Linked DNA regions of Homo sapiens. The protein of the gene in region 2 binds, or shares a complex with, the protein of the main gene of each other region. Each region holds a gene or a part of one and is shown on either strand. Other genes may lie near its edges.

Region 1 (7,040 bases), on a different chromosome or scaffold from region 2:
TGTTATAAATTGGGCTTCCCTTAAACATTTCCGCAAAGGTTTCTGGGTCCACAAAGTTTGAAAACTCCCTTTTTACAAGAAGAAATTTAAGAGGCTCTCCTGAAGCCTCTCAGAATCCAGGGCAGAGTTGGGACAAGACCGTATGTCAGTGGGAAGGAAGGTTCTGGCTTTTCCCCTCATCCCCATGCTGGTACCTCAGTGTCTGAGTAGAGCCCCTTGGTGCTGGACATCAGCAGCTTCCGTTCCACGCTGTCCAGGGCAAAGGTCAGGACTGCCCGGGCCTCCTAGGGACAAGGGGTAGAAGGCGGTGGGGGACCTAGGACCTTCCCCTCAGATAAAATCTCAGCCAGTCCTTTGGCCAGGCACAGTGGCTCATGACCATAATCTCACCACTTTGGGAGGCCAAGGCAGGGCACTGCTTGAGGCCAGAAACTCAAGACCAATCTGGGCAACAGAGGGAGACCCCATCTCAGAAAAAAAAAAAAAAAAAAGGTAGCTGGGTGTGGGGGTGCATGTCTGAGTTCCCAGCTACTCAGGAGGCAGAGGTGGGAGGACTGCTTGAGCCCAGGAGTTTGAAGCTGCAGTGAGCTGTGATCGTACTACACTCCAGCATGGGCGACAGTGAGACCCTGTCTCAACGCTCCCCTTCCCACCACACACTTGCAGCCAGTCCCACTGAGGGGACTCCGGACCCTTGGCCTCCAGGCCTCTCCCTTTCCATAGCCAGGCGCTCACCTATCAAGCATCAAGCGCAGCCATTTTTTGTCTACGCTACCCCTTCCCTACTTCCCTGGGTATAGCCCTCTGCCTTTCCTTTGTAGAACTGTACTCCATGCCCCTTATTCCAACCACGTGGTTCTGACAGGGGCTTCCAAGCTCAGTATTCCTGCCCCAAGGGGCTAGCCATAGTGCCACTCACTTATCTGGTACCTCTCGGCCTCCCAGTCCCCCTTCCATGCTCTGTCCCACAGGGGCTGGAAGCCAGCAAGCTGTATTTCCCAGACTCCCTTACCAGCTAGTTTCCATCAGTAATGAGGTGGGAGAATGGAAGAAAAGCAGCACCCTGGTCCTCATGGACAATGGCAGGTGCTGATGGCTGTGGCTGTGTGACAGCCATGGAGGTGGGGTGGGTTCTGGACCTCAGTGGCCAGGGCAGAAGCAGGACATGCTATGTGCATCCAGAACCAATTGAGATGATGTCTCCAACACGACAGAACAGGAGGTGGCTCGCAGGTTCAGTCCAGGTCTGGGAGGGGTTTCTCATCTCTGGGTGTCACTCCTGCTTCCTTTTTCCTCCTCTAGTTCCTCAACACTGTTGTTACAAAGTCCCTGCATTTAACTCCCTCCATCTGAAACCCTCCAAGTGGTTTCCGTCTTCTTGACTAGAGGGGACCATTATAGCACTGGGCAGAAAACTCAGAATAACTTGAGCTTAGGACACTGCACCTGAGCCGATGAGGAAAACTCTCTTCTCGTTTGCTTTTGAGCCTCCTAGGATGGAAATGGAGCTTAAGGGGTCAGTCCCAGCCTCAGGAAAGGTGCTGGCCAGAAAGAATGAAGCTGATGTGCAGAGAAAGGCAGGGACGAGAAGTGAAGCAAGGACATCCTGATGGTGTTTAAAGTCCTGGTTTTATTTTATTTTATTTTTGAGAGTTTCACTCTTTCATCCAGGCTGGAGTGAAGTGGTGCGATCTCAGCTCACTGTAACCTCCACCCTCCAGGTTTAAGTGATTCTCCTGCCTCAGCCTCCTGAGTAGCTGAGATTACAGATGTGTGCCACCATGCCTAGCTAACCTTTGTATTTTTAGTAGAGACAGGGTTTTGCAATGTTGGCCAGGCTGGTCTTCAACTCCCAGCCTCAGGTGATCTGCCTGCCTCAGACTCCCAAAGTGCTGGCATTACAGGTGTGAGCCACCACACCTGGCCATACATTTCCTTTCTAGTTTATTTATTTATATTTTTTGAGATGGAGTTTCACTCTTATTGCCCAGGCTGGAGTGCAATGGCGCGATCTCGGCTCACCACAACCTCCGCGTCCTGGGTTCAAGCGATTCTCCTGCCTCAGCCTCCTGAGTAGCTGGGATTACAGGCGTGCGCCACCACACCTGGCTAATTTTGTATTTTTAGTAGAGATGGGGTTTCTCCATGTTGGTCAGACTGATCTCGAACTCCCGACCTCAGGTGATCCACCCACCTCAGCCTCCCAAAGTGCTGGGATTACAGGCGTGAGCCACCGCTCCCGGCCCCACATTTCCTTCCTAATTAAGCAAGTCTGAGCTGGGTTTCCAGCACTTGCTGCTAAATGAACCATGATGATTAGAGCAGCCCTTGCTAAGTGGGATTGAGGTGGCATGAGCCGACTGTCTGTAGAGAAGCGAGGCCTGGAGGAAGGGACGGGCAGCTGTCTGGCCTCTGCCCTTCAGCCACCCTGGTCTTCACACCTACCTTTTCTTGCTTGGATGTAGGATCCAGCACGAGGGTCCCATCAGAGTCCAGGGCGCAGGCGACCCCACAGAAGAGAGCCCGCATGGGCACACCTGCATCCACCAATGCCATGCAGGCGGCATTCAGACAACAGGCCAGGAGCTGAGCACCACAGGAAATGGTTAAGTTTCTTTTTTTTTTTTTTGGAGATGGAGTTTCGCTCTTGTTGCCCAGGCTGGAGTGCAATGGTGTGATCTCGGCTCACTGCAACCTCCACCTCCTGGGTTCAAGCAATTCTCCTGCCTCAGCCTCCTGAGTAGCTGGGATTACAGGCACCCACCACCACACCCGGCTAATCTTTGTATTTTTAGTAGAGATGGGGTTTCACTATGTTGGCCAGGCTGGTCTGAAAACTCCTGACCTCAGGTGATCCACCTGCCTCGGCCTCCCAAAGTGCTGGGATTACAGGCATGAGCCACCACGCCCAGCCTAAGAAGTTTCTACTGTAGGCCTGGCCAGCAGAGCAGATCCATGCCTCCCTCCACCAGGCTGATGCCTATGGCAGACATCACTAATCGGTCACAGAAGGGCAGTATGGCAGAGTGGTTAAAAGTGGTCCGGGGATCAAGTAGCCCTGGGTTCCAGACCTAGTTTTGCTCAGCTGTGTGACCTTGAACAAGTGACTTACTCCTTGAGTCTCAATCTCCTCATCTGTTAGATGGGGAATATAATAATATTCAATAGGTATGTACTGAAGTACGTACCACACATTTGTTGGCAAATAGGGTCAGAGAGGGGAAGAAACCTTCCAAAGACACGAGGGGGAGGCACTGGCAAAGCCAGGCCCGAAACTTGGGTAGCAGCCACTCCCCGGTGACAGAGCTGGCAGGGCAATGGAGGAAGAGCCACCTCGCTGCTGCCTGCAGGAAGCTCACAGTGGAAAGAGAGCACAGGTTGGGAGTCAGCTGGCTCTGCCTCAGTTTCCTAATGTGTTTCTTCTCCAGGCCTAGCAGCCAGACAAAGACCACAGCTTTAGTCAACCGGTTCCAGCTCTGCTGCTGATCCTCCACGCCTTCCTCTGGGCTTCACTTTCCACTTCTGTAAAATGGGGTCACAATACCTTCTCTCTCTGCCCATCCATAAAATGTCTGTCCAGTTCAGGGCCACGTTCCAGTAAAGCCTTCTACAGTGTCTAATTCTAGTCCTCAACCTCAACCTCTCGCACCTCAGACATGGAGATCTTACAAGGCCACGCTCCTGACTCAGCTGCTGTCTGCTCAGGGCGCCCCCAGCACTGAGGGCCTGAAATCCACTGAGGTGCCGAGTAGAAGTGATTGCCAGCCGGGCACAGTAGCTCATGCCTGTAACCCCAGCACTTTGGGAGGCCAAGGTGGACTGATCACTCGAGGTCAGGAGTTCGAGACCAGCCTGGCCAACACAGCAAAACCCCGTCTCTACTAAAAATACAAAAATTAGCCTGGCGTGGTGGCAGGCACCTGTAATTCCACCTGTAATTCAGGAGGCTAAAGCATGGGAATCGCTTGAGCCCGGGAGGTAGAGGTTGCAGTAAGCTGACATTGCACCACTGCATCCAGCCTGGGTGACAGAGTGAGAGCCTGTCTCAAAAACAAACAAAAAAACCCAAAAAACAAAAGAAGTGATTGGCACAGGCTCTGGAGTCAGACTGGCCTGGGCTTGAGTCCTGCCTGTGCTGCCTTCCAGCTGTGTGACCTTGGGCAAGCCCCTTCCCCTCTCTGGGCCTCAGTTTTGTCACCTGAAACATGCGAACATAAGAACACTCATCTGCCAGGGTCCGTGGGCTCTAGAACTAGACGGTCTGGGTCTAAGTCTTGGCTCTGCCACTTCCACGGGGATCATAAGGGCATGTGCTATATTACATGAGTTAATGTGCATAAGGCACACAGAACAGTGCCTGGCACATAAGTAAGCACCCAGGCTGTTTGCTCTCCTTCTTCAGTGAGCTGGTACCTGTCAAGTGTTTGAAGGCTTTCTGGCTAGCAGTGAGGGTATATGTATCCGCCAGGAGGGAAGCAATCAGGAGACTTCCTGGAGGAGGAGGCCTGGCAGAAAGGATACAGAGCCGGCATCGCTGACAACCTGCAGCACCACGGTGATGGAGGTGCGGGGGTGCAACGTGCCCAGCACCACCGCCTCGCACGTGTTCCTGATCAGCCGCTCCCGGCTCTTCTCTGCAACACCTGGGGAAATTGAAGAGAGGTTCAGGGTCTTCCCCTTCATTTGACTCACCTTCCTCCATACGCCTCACCCAAATTCCCAGAAAGGGCTCACGGTCTCAGCCTGGGATGGTGCAGTTACCTGCAGGGATGATGGAAGATTCCAGTGGGAAGAAGGCAAGGCCTGACTGCCATCCACTGACCCCTGCTACCTCCAGCATCCACCAAGGGAACCATCCAAGGGAAGAAGACCTGGGAGTTCCATGTCTGTGCTGCTACCCACGCCCACTCCCACCCTAGCAGGTCCAGTCAGTGGGGACTGAGGGATATGAGGGTAAAAGGGTGGAAAAACAGGTTAATGGTCCAGGCACAGTGGCTCGCGCCTGTAATCCCAACACTTTGGGGGGCTGAGGCGGGCGGATCACTTGAGGTCAGGAGATCAAGACCATCCTGGCCAACATGGTGAAACCCCATCTCTACTAAAAAAATACAAAAAATTAGTGGGCATGGTGGCACGTGCCTGTAATCCCAGCGACTCGGGAGGCTGAGCCAGGGGAATTGCTTGAATCTGGGAGGCAGAGGTTGCAGTGAGCTGAGATCGTGCCACTGCACTCCAGCCGGGGTGACAGAGCGAGACACTGTCTCCAAAAAAAAAATAAATAAATAAAAATAAATAAAAGAAAAACAGGTTAATGGAATGAATGAGAGTGGAGGCAGAGAGAGGGAGAAAAGAGGGAGGGAGAAATTAGAGGCAGAGAGAGAAGCAACAGAAGATGAGTTATTAATTAGAGGCGGAGAGTTAAAGACAGAAACAGCTGAGTGGAGACCCAAGCGGGGAGTGGAGACTCGGGGCAGCTGGTAGGGAGGAGCTGGGGGGGTGATTTTGACAAACTGGGCACCACTCAGAGGTTCAGCAGGGCCCAATTACCAGGCAGCCCAATCTTCGGCCTCAGGATCACTTCGAGTGTGGCCTTGTTGAAAATCTCTTTGCTGACCTTCACCTCGGCCGGCCCGTACACACCCGCCAGGACAGAGGTGTCACCTGAGGAGACAGCAGGGAGGGCCTCACTCACAGCTTCCCTGCTCCTGGGGCCCCATTTGTGGCACTGAGCCTGACGGCCAGGGCTCCCCACGTCACCCCCGCCATTTGTTGGTACTGATTCTTTGAGCACTCACTTCATTTCTCTCATTTGTAAAATGGGGAAAATAGCAGTCCCTCCCCGCTAGCGTCTTGTGAGGATCAAAGGACACAATTCACAGAAAACACTTAGAACACTGCGGGGCTCACGCTGAATGTGCAACAGACTTTAGCTGTATTAGTAACATTCGTCCATTCAGGCATTCAGGCAGGGTCTCACTCTCATTGCCCAGGCTGGAGTGCAGTGGTGCCATCACGGCTCATTGCAGCCTTGACCTTCTGGGCTCAAGTGATCCTCCCGCCTCAGCCTCCCAAGTAGCTGGAACTACAGGCATGTGCCACCATGCCTGACTAATTTTTATATTTTTAGTAGAGAGGGGATTTTGCCATGTTGCTCAGGCGGGTTTCGAACTCCTGGGCAACTGTAATCCCAAGGTGCTAGGATTACAGGCGTGAGCTACCACGCCTGGCCCTGATATTAGTAATTTTTTTTTTTTTAATGAGATGGAGTCTTGCTCTGTCGCCCAGGCTGGAGTGCAGTGGCGTAATCTCGGCTCACCGCAACCTCTGCCTCCCGGGTTCAAGCAGTTCTCCTGCCTCAGCCTACTGAGTAGCTGGGATTACAGGCGCGCGCCACCACACCTGGCTAATTTTTTTATTTTTAGTAGAGACTGGGTTTCACCATGTTGGTCAGGCTGGTCTCGAACTTCCTGACCTCATGATCTGCCCGCCTCCCAAAGCGCTGGGATTACAGGCGTGAGCCACTGTGCCCGGCTGGTATTAGTAACTTTTAACAGGAAGTTCTTCCTGAAAGCTAACCATCCTCCCTCTTACTGCAGCTGCTCTCAACTTCTCTTTCCAAAGCTTCCCCAGCCCAGCTCTTCCCTTAGGCACTGGCCCCCAAATTTTGCATCAGTCTGGACACCTGAGAAAGGGATAATATCTGGAATGAATCCTGATTCCTTATTTCCCCAGAAGCTATGAACGGGGTACAGGAGGTAAAACCTAAGAAATAAACAGCCTGGCTTCTAGTACTGTCTGCTGTAATCCCAGCACTTTGGGAGGCTGAGGTGGGTGGATCACCTGAGGTCAGGAGTTTGAGACCATCCTAGTCAACATGGTGAAACCCTATCTCTACTAAAGATACAAAAATTAGCTGGGCATAGTGGTGGGTGCCTGTAATCTCAGCTACTTGGGAGGCCGACGCAGGAGAATTGCTGGAACCGGGGAGGCGGAGGTTGCAGTGAGCCGAGATCACACCATTGCACTCCAGCCTGGACAAT
Region 2 (2,891 bases):
ACAGATTACTTCTCTGCTGTGTCCCCTCCCCTTCACAATTTAATTCCTAAGGAACTGTTCACCTAATCAGTACTTTTCTATTTAAAAACTGGCTAGACAGTTCATAATAAAAGATATGGGACCAACCTAAGTACCCATCAACCAATGAATGGATAAAGTGTGGTATATATATCCCATGGAATATTAGCCATAAAAAATGTCTTTTGCAGCAACTTGGATAGTATTGGAAGCTATTATTCTTAGTGAAGTAACTCAGGAATGGAAAACCAAATACCAAATGTTCCCACTTTAAGTGGGAGCTAAGCTACAGGTAAGCACACAGAGTGGTATAACAGATACTGGAGACCCGGAACAGGGAAGGGGGAAGGATAAACTACATACTGGGTACAATATATAGTACTCAGGTGACTGGTACACCAAAATCTCAGACTTCACCACTATACAATTCATCCGTGTAATCCAAAACCACTTGTACCCCTAAAAGCTATTGAACTAAAAACCATCCAGTCCTTAGAAAACATTAGAAACACACGAAGCTCCTTGGTCTTTATCAACAAATAGAGTTCTATAATCTCTTTGATCCAAAAAGGACTTTCTATGGATAGGCTTCAGGGGATCTGTATCTCACATATTCTCAGAGGTCTAGAAACCAAGAATCACTGATGTGGATCACCTGGCAGTCTCTTTACCTCTAAAGGTTTTGGTTAATATACTAAATAGCATAGAAGAGTTTTCTATGCTTAGCTCCTAGGAAATGATTTTAGCAAAATAAGACTTGGCCAGATTTGGATTCAGAAATCCTCATAGTGTTATTTATATAATGATAAAACTCAAAAATATCCTGTAACATGAAATATGTGACTAAAGTTGTGAAATGTATCATGCTGTTTGAAGTAGACAAAAGTATATTACAAAGTGGCATATAAGCTATAATAACTATAATTTCAATTTGATGAATATAGAGAATGTAGGCCAAGTTAAATTCTGTGCCTCAGTTTCAATTATGAGGATAAGTGTCTTCTGCAGTTAGAATAAAGGAGTTAATCCATGCAAAACACAATACTTGGTAAATGAAAAAGTATTTCGTTGTTATATACTCACCCGCTGAATAATGGGACTACAGGTGACATTTCTTTGCTGCTTTATACTTAGGTATTCCACATTTCCTCTGGTGAACCTGGCTTACTGTTATAATCACAAAATTATTTTACTGCTGACCTCCAGTTAATTATGGAAGCTGTAGCAATTACTAAGGGAGTTAACTCCAAATAAACCCTAATACTGTTTTTTAGTAAACTTTATTGTACCGAACAAAAAAAATGATTTTGCAATGATTTTCTCTCCCACAAAAGCGTGGGTGAAAACCAGTAACTTATAAAAATACTTTCGGACTCTAATAATACATACATTCACACCTTATCTTCTGAGTATTTAAATGGGGGAGGTTCACCTGAAAAAACCCATAGTTTTTTGCCTCAACTGACCTGTAAAAAAGTCCACCTATATCAACTTTCTGCCAATCTGGAGAAGATCTGTTTTCTTTGATCTGACGTCATGTGTTCACAAGCTTCTAAAATGTTTGCCAAAATTAAAGTCTGCTGGATGGTTTTTGCCTTAACCCATATTCTTCCATTCATTCCAAATACTATCTCCAGTGGATAGAGTTTTCCCACTTCCTGTATGATTTCACAATCTGGAGCTAATAGCCTGGTGGGAAGAGAAAAGAAAATGAAATTTAATGAAGTGGCAAAGGTGTGTCCGGAGTCTCCTTTAGAATGTGATTCCTTTTCTGAGCAGTTCTCCATAGCTGTTCAACAAGAACAAGGCACGTGATGACATTTGCTGCCTCCTTTCTTCCAAGAAGGAACTTTACACTGTTCAAAGGTATACTAGAAATCACAGAGGTGGGCTATGCCTTACAAAGAAATCAAACTCCCTAGGTTACCAACTTTGTAAAAGTCATTCCCCTAGATGGTCAGAGCACTTTAATTCTAGACTGGGAATCATAACTTTTTTTATCTACAGTGTTAAGACACTTTAAACTTATTTTCCTGGCCATATTATTCTCTTGTGTTAAATTCAGTACTTGGAGAGGAACATTGGCTCTTTCAAACCATAAGGGTGGTGCTTGGTTAATAACATGCTTCTTGGTTAAAAACATGCTTCTCTGATGTCCAAACTTAATTCTCCAGATCTTTAGGATATGTAGTAAGGAGAGGCATACAAGATAGCTCTCAACTTCACTGGCTCTAGGAGTAAAGCCCCTGAATATGGCACAGCTTTGGGTGGGTAAAGTTCTAAACACCAAAAAGAGAATCTGCCTCAGCATGAACCTCAGTATGCCTCAGTATGACCAAGTGTCAGAAGCCTTCTGTGAATGTCTACATAACCTTGAACATCACAATCTAAGCTGCGTGTGACCCCCATAATTAGAAAAAATTGATAATTTTATACAACTGCAGACTGCATCTGTATTCAAGTGACTCAGAACAGGGGAAAGGCCAGTTTTCACATTTGGGCTAAGTCAAATAAGCAACAGGCCTGGGAAGGAAGATATGAATACAGAGTAAGAGCTTAAGGCATGAAGTATCAGCCCACCAGAAACTACACAGCCAAACACATCTGAATTTGATATGTTTCCAAGAAGATAGGATTAAATTCATGAGTTTCCAAATGTGTTAAAATGGATACTGATTTCTAACTCTGAGGAGAAATTCAAACGTTACAAAGAATCTGAATCCTGAAGATTAACCAACTTTCCAAGAATGTATAATTATAAAAAGCAGTCAAGCCAGCAGACATCAGGACTTACTTTCTAATTAAGCCCAGAGTCACTTTAAAAAGCAGACCATCCTGTCCAATGACACCCATTCCATTGGCTCGTCCACAGC
Region 3 (7,040 bases), on a different chromosome or scaffold from region 2:
TGGTTTTTAACAGACATGATAAAAATGTAATTAGATTTGAGGTTAGGAAAATCGTAGTATTAAATGTTAGAGTGGTTCTGTTTATTTAAAGTATGTGTTCTGTTGTTAAACGACCCACATAGTATTTCAGATGTTTGGCTTAAATTTTCTAAAATATATTTTTTGTTGACAAAGTACAAGGAGTAACTGCGTGTTTTAACAGCAAGAAAAAATAATTTGTACACAATGTTACTTTTCCTGATAAATAGCCACTGGTTGTAATCAGTTAGGATTTATTTTTATTTTAAATTCACTATCAGGTTTGGCAAATACGTGTAGACCTACATTTATTAAATCATGATGGAAATATTATTGATGCTGCCAGCATTGCTGCAATCGTGGCCTTATGTCATTTCCGAAGACCTGATGTCTCTGTCCAAGGAGATGAAGTAACACTGGTAAGCTCCTATGTGAACCAGGATCCTTGATATGAATGAATGAGGAGGGTCTTAAATGTGCAGGCAACTTGTTTTTAGTGAAGTTATGTTGTAGATGGCAATTGGGTCGTTTCTAAAAATTTGTTTGTAAGACTGAAACTGCATATGGTCAAAATTGCCCTGGAAATCTCTTAACCGTTCCTCTGTTGAAACATTTGTCAGTAAGAACATACCCTAGCCTGGTTTTCCAGAATAGAATTAGATGACTATTTTGGATTGAACATTAGATGAAGTGGTTGACTTATGTTTAGGGGCCATATGTGTGAAAAATACATGAATCTCAGCACAGTGAGATGCTTACCCTGCAAGAGGCATGCAATAGCTGAAAAGCACTGAGGAATCAGCAGGTTCATATTTGTCTCCAGGACTTTTGTTCATTAGGCAAAGAGATGACGAAAGTCCATCAGAAATACCTGGAGGGCTTGTTAAAACGTATAGCCAGACTACTCCCAAAGTAAAACAGGGCTAGGACTTAAGATTTTGTACTTCTAACTTTGAGTTCTTAGGTAATACTGATGTTGCTGGTCCAGGGAGCACATTTTGAAAACCATTGACCTACGTTGTCTTTATCTTTTGTTCTGAGTATGTCAGTTTTGATTTATATAAATTACATGCTAGAATAGTGAAAGTGCACTGTAGTTGTAGTTTGAATCCTGAAGTTGCAAAAGGACACATCAGATGCCCAGATTTTCTAAGCAATGATTCATAATTTTGATTTTGGGCAGTAGACTGAAGCAGAACCATTAAAAAGTGAGAAATAGGGACAAAGGTTTATTAACAGTAGAGGTAATATTCTTTTAGAGGAGGGAGTTTATATAAGGAAGTGAAAAAAAGTAGAAAGCGATTACTACACTTGAAAAATCAATTAAAGAATACTGTGGTGTTATTGCTAGTGGGAATGTAAAATGGTACAGCCATGTTGGAAAAGTTTGGTAGCTTAAGTTTTAAGTGTAGACAGCATTCTATATTCAGAAAAATAACAGTAGAAGAAAATATTCTTTTTTTTTTTTCTTTTTTTTTTTTTTGAGACAGGATCTCACTCCGTTGTCCAGGCTGGGGTGCAGTGGCGTGATCTCGGCTCACTGTAACCTCTGCCTCCTGGACTTAAGCAATCCTCCCACCTCAGTCTCCTGAGTAGTGGGGACTACAGGTATGTGCCACCCACTTGACTAATTTTTGTATTTTTTGTAGAGATATGGTTTCACCAAATTGCCCAGGCTGGTCTCGAACTCCTGGGCTCAAGTGATCCTCCCACCTTGGCCTCCCAAACTGTTGGGATTACAGGCATGAGCCACCATGCCCAGCTGAAAACACTCTCTTATATGTACATCTTTCAGCAGGTTTGACCTTGTAATTTTTTTTTTTTCTTTTGAGACAAAGTTTCACTGTTGTTGCCTAGGCTAGAGTACAATGGCGTGATCTCGGCTCACTGCAGCCTCCGCCTCCCGGATTCAAGCGATTCTCCTGCCTCAGCCTCCCAAGTAGCTGGGATTGCAGGCATGTGCAACCACGCCTGGCTAATTTTGTATTTTTAGTAGAGACAGGGTTTCTCCATGTTGGTCAGGCTGGTCTTGAACTCCCAACCTCGTCCACATCGGCCTTCCAAAGTGCTGGGATTACAGACGTGAGCCACTGCCCCCAGCCGACCTTATAATGTTAAAACAAACTGCAATGGCTTAAAATTAGAAAAAAAAAAAAAAATTCTAGCAATTCCATGCCTAAGAATCTACGGGAGGAATAAGAGCTTACTACGTTCAGAGACTTCAATGCAAGTGTTCATAGCATCATTTGTTAGCCAGAAACTGGAAACAATCCAAATGTCCAGCTGGTGAATAGATAAAATGTCATATATACAAATAATGGAATGCTGTTCAGTAATGAAAAGAACTGAACTACTGATAAATGCTGCAAGGTGCATGAAACATGCTAAGTTGAAAGAAGCCAGGCACAAAACATTACAACTTTTTTTTTTTCCATTTATATAGAATGCTCAGAAAGTCAGATTTATAGAGACAGAAATAAGATAGATCAGTGATTCCTTGGGGCTAGGGTGGGAGTACACCAGACTCCTACGGACTACAGACAGATTCAAAGGAATTTTGGGGAGTAATGGAAATGTTAAAAAACTAGATTGTGGTGATGGGTCCGTAAATGTATCCATAACTATACATTTACTAAAAATTGAATCATATACTTAAAATGAGTGGATTTTGGCTGGGCGTGGTGGCTCACACCTGTAATTCCAGCACTTTGGGAGGCCAAGGCAGGTGGATCACCTCAGGTTGGGAGTTCGAGACCAGCCTGACCAACATGGAGAAACCCCGTCTACTAAAAATACAAAATTAGCCGGGCGTGGTGGCACATGCCTGTAATCCCACCTACTTGGGAGGCTGACATAGGAGAATCGCATGAGCCCAGGAGGCGGAGGTTGCCGGGAGCTGACATCTTGCCATTGCACTCCAGCCTGGGCAACAAGAGTGAAACTTCATCTCCAAAAAAAAAAGTGGATTTTATGGGATGTAAATTATGTGTCAGTAAATTTTTGAAAAAGCTTTTTGAAAAAGTTGTACAGTTTGAGGAACGTGAGTGGCAAAATCAAACTGGTAATTAATTAAAAGAAGTTATTTAGGTACTCAAAAGAATAAAGGAACTTCATTTTTTAGTATTTGATGTGCAAGATGATTTTTTTGGATGTTCATAACTTAGTGACTATAATTATTAAACATTTTCTTTTGAAACAGTATACACCTGAAGAGCGTGATCCTGTACCATTAAGTATCCACCACATGCCCATTTGTGTCAGTTTTGCCTTTTTCCAGCAAGGGTAAGCCTCGCCTTATTATGGGCCAAAATTACAAATGCAGCTAGGAATTTTATTGCTCTACTCAAGTATGTCATGTTAATATTAAACAAACACTTCCCTTAATAGTAAAGCACCTTGTATTTCCTTTCTTTCTTTGTAAGGGCATTAGTTGGCAAAGAACTTTCTCAGTAGAAGTAACAAAACTCTTATACTTTGATGAAGATACTTCCCAACATTTTTCTTTTCATGGGATACTTATAAACTTAGGAATTTACTATGGCATGGTAGTGTTTTATGTTTCCTAAGGCTGTACAGTGGTTAAGAGAATTATATGCTAGGCTCTAATTTGGGACAGTGGGGTGAGAATTACTGTGGGTTATTGGAAGATAGGGGACTTTGGAACATATTAGATGGAGTAGTTCTAGGAGTCGGTTACAAGGGGGGATGGTTCACAGACTGGAGGAAAAAAATCTAATGTTCTTAAGTTTTCCAGCGTTTTCATTACTTAACTGCTAAATCCTCCTGTGGCAGAAAACTTGGAGTTTTTCAGGTCCATTTAATGGTGCTTTCAAATGAAAACTTGAGCCTTAAATTCCTTTAGAAACAAGGGAAGATAAAAATATTTCACACAGTGTTGTGCACAAGGACTAGAGAAACACTTACAAGTTTTAGTGATTGTAAGTGTAGAGTTTTATCAGAGGAAAATGGGCCAGCATTGTCCAGTAGAAATAAAATGTGAACCATATATATAATTTTCTTATTTTCTTCTTTTTTTTGAGATGAGGTCTGGCTTTGTTGCCCAATTTGGATTTCAGCAGCGTGATTTTTGCTCATTACAACCTCTGCTTTCTGGGCTCAATGAATTCTTCAGCCTCAGCCTTCCGAGTAGTTGAGACTACAGGCATGCACCACCATGCCTAGCTAATTTTTGTATTTTTTTTGTAAAAAAGAGGTTTTGCCATATTGCCCAGGCTGGTCTGGAACTCCTGAGTTCAAAAGTGATCTAGCTACCTCAGCCTCCCAAAATGCTGGATTACGGGGATGAGCCACCATGCCTGGCTGTTTCTTTTTCTTTTCTTTTCTTTTTTTTTTTTAAGACAAGGTCTCCCTCTGTCACCCAGGCTTGAGTGCAGTGGCGTGATCATGTTTTATTGCAGCCTCAACCTCTCAGGCTCAAGTGATTCTCCTGCCTCAGCCTCCTGAGTAGCTGGGACCACAGGTGCACACCATGCCCAGCTAATTTCTTTATTTTTTGTAGAGATGGGATTTCACTACGTTGCCCAGGATGGTCTGAAGCTCCTGGGCTCAAGTGATCCGCCTATCTCCACCTCCCAAAGTGCTAGGATTATAGGCTTGAGCCACCATGCGCAGCATTTGTTACTTTTTAAATTTTTTTTTTATTTTTTTGTGACAGGGTCTCACTCTCACCCAGGCTGGAGTGCAGTGGTGTGATCATAGCTCACTGCAGCCTACTTCTGAGCTCAAGTGATCCTCCCACCTCAGCCTTCCAAGTAGCTGGGACTATAGGTGTGTGGCATACCCAGCTAATTTAAAAAAATTTTTTTTGTAGAGACAGGGTCTCACTTTGTTGCCCAGGCTGGTCCCAAACTCATGAGCTCAAGTGATCTTGCAGTCCTGACCTCCCAAAGTGCTGGGATTACAAGCATGAGCCACCATGCCTGGCCTCATATGTGTAATTTAATATTTTCCAGTAGTCACATTAAAAAGGTAAAATTAATTTTTATATATTTTTAATTAATATATTTTCACGTTAATGAAATAAAATGATTAATGAAATAATCAGTATTTTAATAATTACTCATGAGATAGTCTACATTCTTTTGTTTCCACTAAGTCTCTGAAATCCAATATTTTACATACTCTGATTACATTTCAAGGGCTCAGTAACCACAGGTGACTATTGGCAAATGTACCGGACAGTGCAGAAATAGACAGTATTTTTTTCATGAGCCATTAGCAGAACGCAGTAGAACTTTGGAGTACAGGACATTAGGGCAACTTTAGGGTTAACCAATTTAACATTATCTAAGTTTTTATTAATGAGCCAGAAGTCATTTAATCAAAGAGATAGCATTAGGTTTAGATTATATATCATTTAAGTAAATCCAATCTGAACTTAATGTGATTTCATTGTAATAACTAGAGATACCCACTTAGCATTCATTTGTGTTCATAAACACAATAATTTTCTTGTCTCTTTCCCCATTTCAGTGACCCAAATCCGTAGGCTCAGACCTTTATTCTCTGTTGACTTTATTGATGCCATCTTTTAAAAATTCATTACCCAAGAAATGGTAAGCATTCGGTCTCAGATTTGTTCAGGTCCATTTAACATTCATTTCAGAACATATTTATTGGTGGATCCCAATGAACGAGAAGAACGTGTGATGGATGGCTTGCTGGTGATTGCCATGAACAAACATCGAGAGATTTGTACTATCCAGTCCAGTGGTGGGATAATGCTACTAAAAGATCAAGTTAGTGCTTTGATTAATGTCCCATTAATAATAGGTTGCTTCTCTTTAGATGCTTTTTCTTGTCTTTTAACAAAAATCCAATGGGGATACTTCCAGTGATTTATTCTAGGATGTGTTAGAATCTGGTTTCAGTACTGTCACTATTAAATACATTCTGTTGACTGGTGGCTATGAGGTATCCTCCTCCTTCCTACCTTGGTGCTCCCGTGTCTGGCCTGCTGGAGTCTGACCCTTCCACCTAGAAGCAGGGTCTAGTGAAGAAAAAGATTTATATCCCTATTAAAAAAAAAAAAAAAGTGGCCGGGCATGTTGGCTTACGCCTGTAATCCCAGCACTTTGGGAGGCCGTGGCTGGTGGATCACTTGAGGTCAGGAGTTCAAGACCAGCCTGGCCAACATGGTGAAACCCATCTCTACTAAAAATACAAAATTAGCTGGGTGTGGTGGCTGGCGCACGCCTGTAATCCCAGCTACTTGGGAGGCTGAGGCAGGAGAATTGCTTGAATCCGGGAGGCAGAGGTTGCAGTGAGCTGAGATCGTGCCATTGTTCTCCAGTCTGGGCAACAACAGCAAAATTCCATCTGAAAAAATAAAAAATAAAATAAATAAATAAATATTAGCCGAGCTTGGTGGTGCATGCGTGTGGTCCTGGCCACTTGGGAGGCTGAGGTGGGAGGATTGCTTGAGCCTAGGAGGTGGAGGTTGAGTGAGCTGAGATCGTGTCACTGCATTCCAGCCTGGGCTACGGAATGAGACCCTGTCTCAAAAGCAAATAAAAATTTTTAAACATCCAATAGTAGACATTATGTAAAAAGATAGTTTTACTTGCACTTTTAGAACTACAATTGGCAGTAGTTCTGAAACCCAGCTATATATCATATTCACATGGGAGCTTTTAGAAAATAGATCTCCATATAGCATACAGTGTAGATGATTAAAAGCTTCTTTAGTTTGAATTCTAGTTCTGCCCCCATACTAGCTGATCTTGGGCAAATGATTTTATATCTTTGGGTCTCACTTTCTTTATCTGTAAAATAGGGAATGATGTTATTGCCAACACCTTGTTGTTATAAGGATATAAATATATTGCACAGTGTCTAGCACACATTTATTAAGTGTGCAATAAATGTTAGTTTCTGGTATCATCATCATCATCTTTACCAGCATCACAAGTACTACCCAGATTACCCACAGAAAAAGGAAGTTAGTGCATCCTGGAGCATATATGTGTCTGTGGCCTCTTCTGTGGTATCTTTTATACTGT

What was found.
Region 1: EXOSC3 (region 2) and EXOSC5 share a complex: the UniProt entries of both Homo sapiens proteins name them as parts of the RNA exosome core complex.
Region 3: EXOSC3 (region 2) and EXOSC9 share a complex: the UniProt entries of both Homo sapiens proteins name them as parts of the RNA exosome core complex.

What each region holds. Positions count from the first base shown.
Region 1 is NC_000019.10:41,387,320-41,394,359, forward strand, and holds part of EXOSC5 (exosome complex component RRP46), read right to left. Parts: intron 5,662-7,040; coding exon 5,548-5,661; intron 4,644-5,547; coding exon 4,522-4,643; intron 2,587-4,521; coding exon 2,446-2,586; intron 285-2,445; coding exon 195-284; intron 1-194. UniProt on the Homo sapiens protein: Non-catalytic component of the RNA exosome complex which has 3'->5' exoribonuclease activity and participates in a multitude of cellular RNA processing and degradation events.
Region 2 is NC_000009.12:37,779,174-37,782,064, forward strand, and holds the end of EXOSC3 (exosome complex component RRP40), read right to left. Parts: coding exon 2,813-2,891; intron 1,708-2,812; coding exon 1,506-1,707; 3' UTR 541-1,505; downstream 1-540. UniProt on the Homo sapiens protein: Non-catalytic component of the RNA exosome complex which has 3'->5' exoribonuclease activity and participates in a multitude of cellular RNA processing and degradation events.
Region 3 is NC_000004.12:121,804,323-121,811,362, forward strand, and holds part of EXOSC9 (exosome complex component RRP45), read left to right. Parts: intron 1-299; coding exon 300-437; intron 438-3,217; coding exon 3,218-3,300; intron 3,301-5,644; coding exon 5,645-5,777; intron 5,778-7,040. UniProt on the Homo sapiens protein: Non-catalytic component of the RNA exosome complex which has 3'->5' exoribonuclease activity and participates in a multitude of cellular RNA processing and degradation events.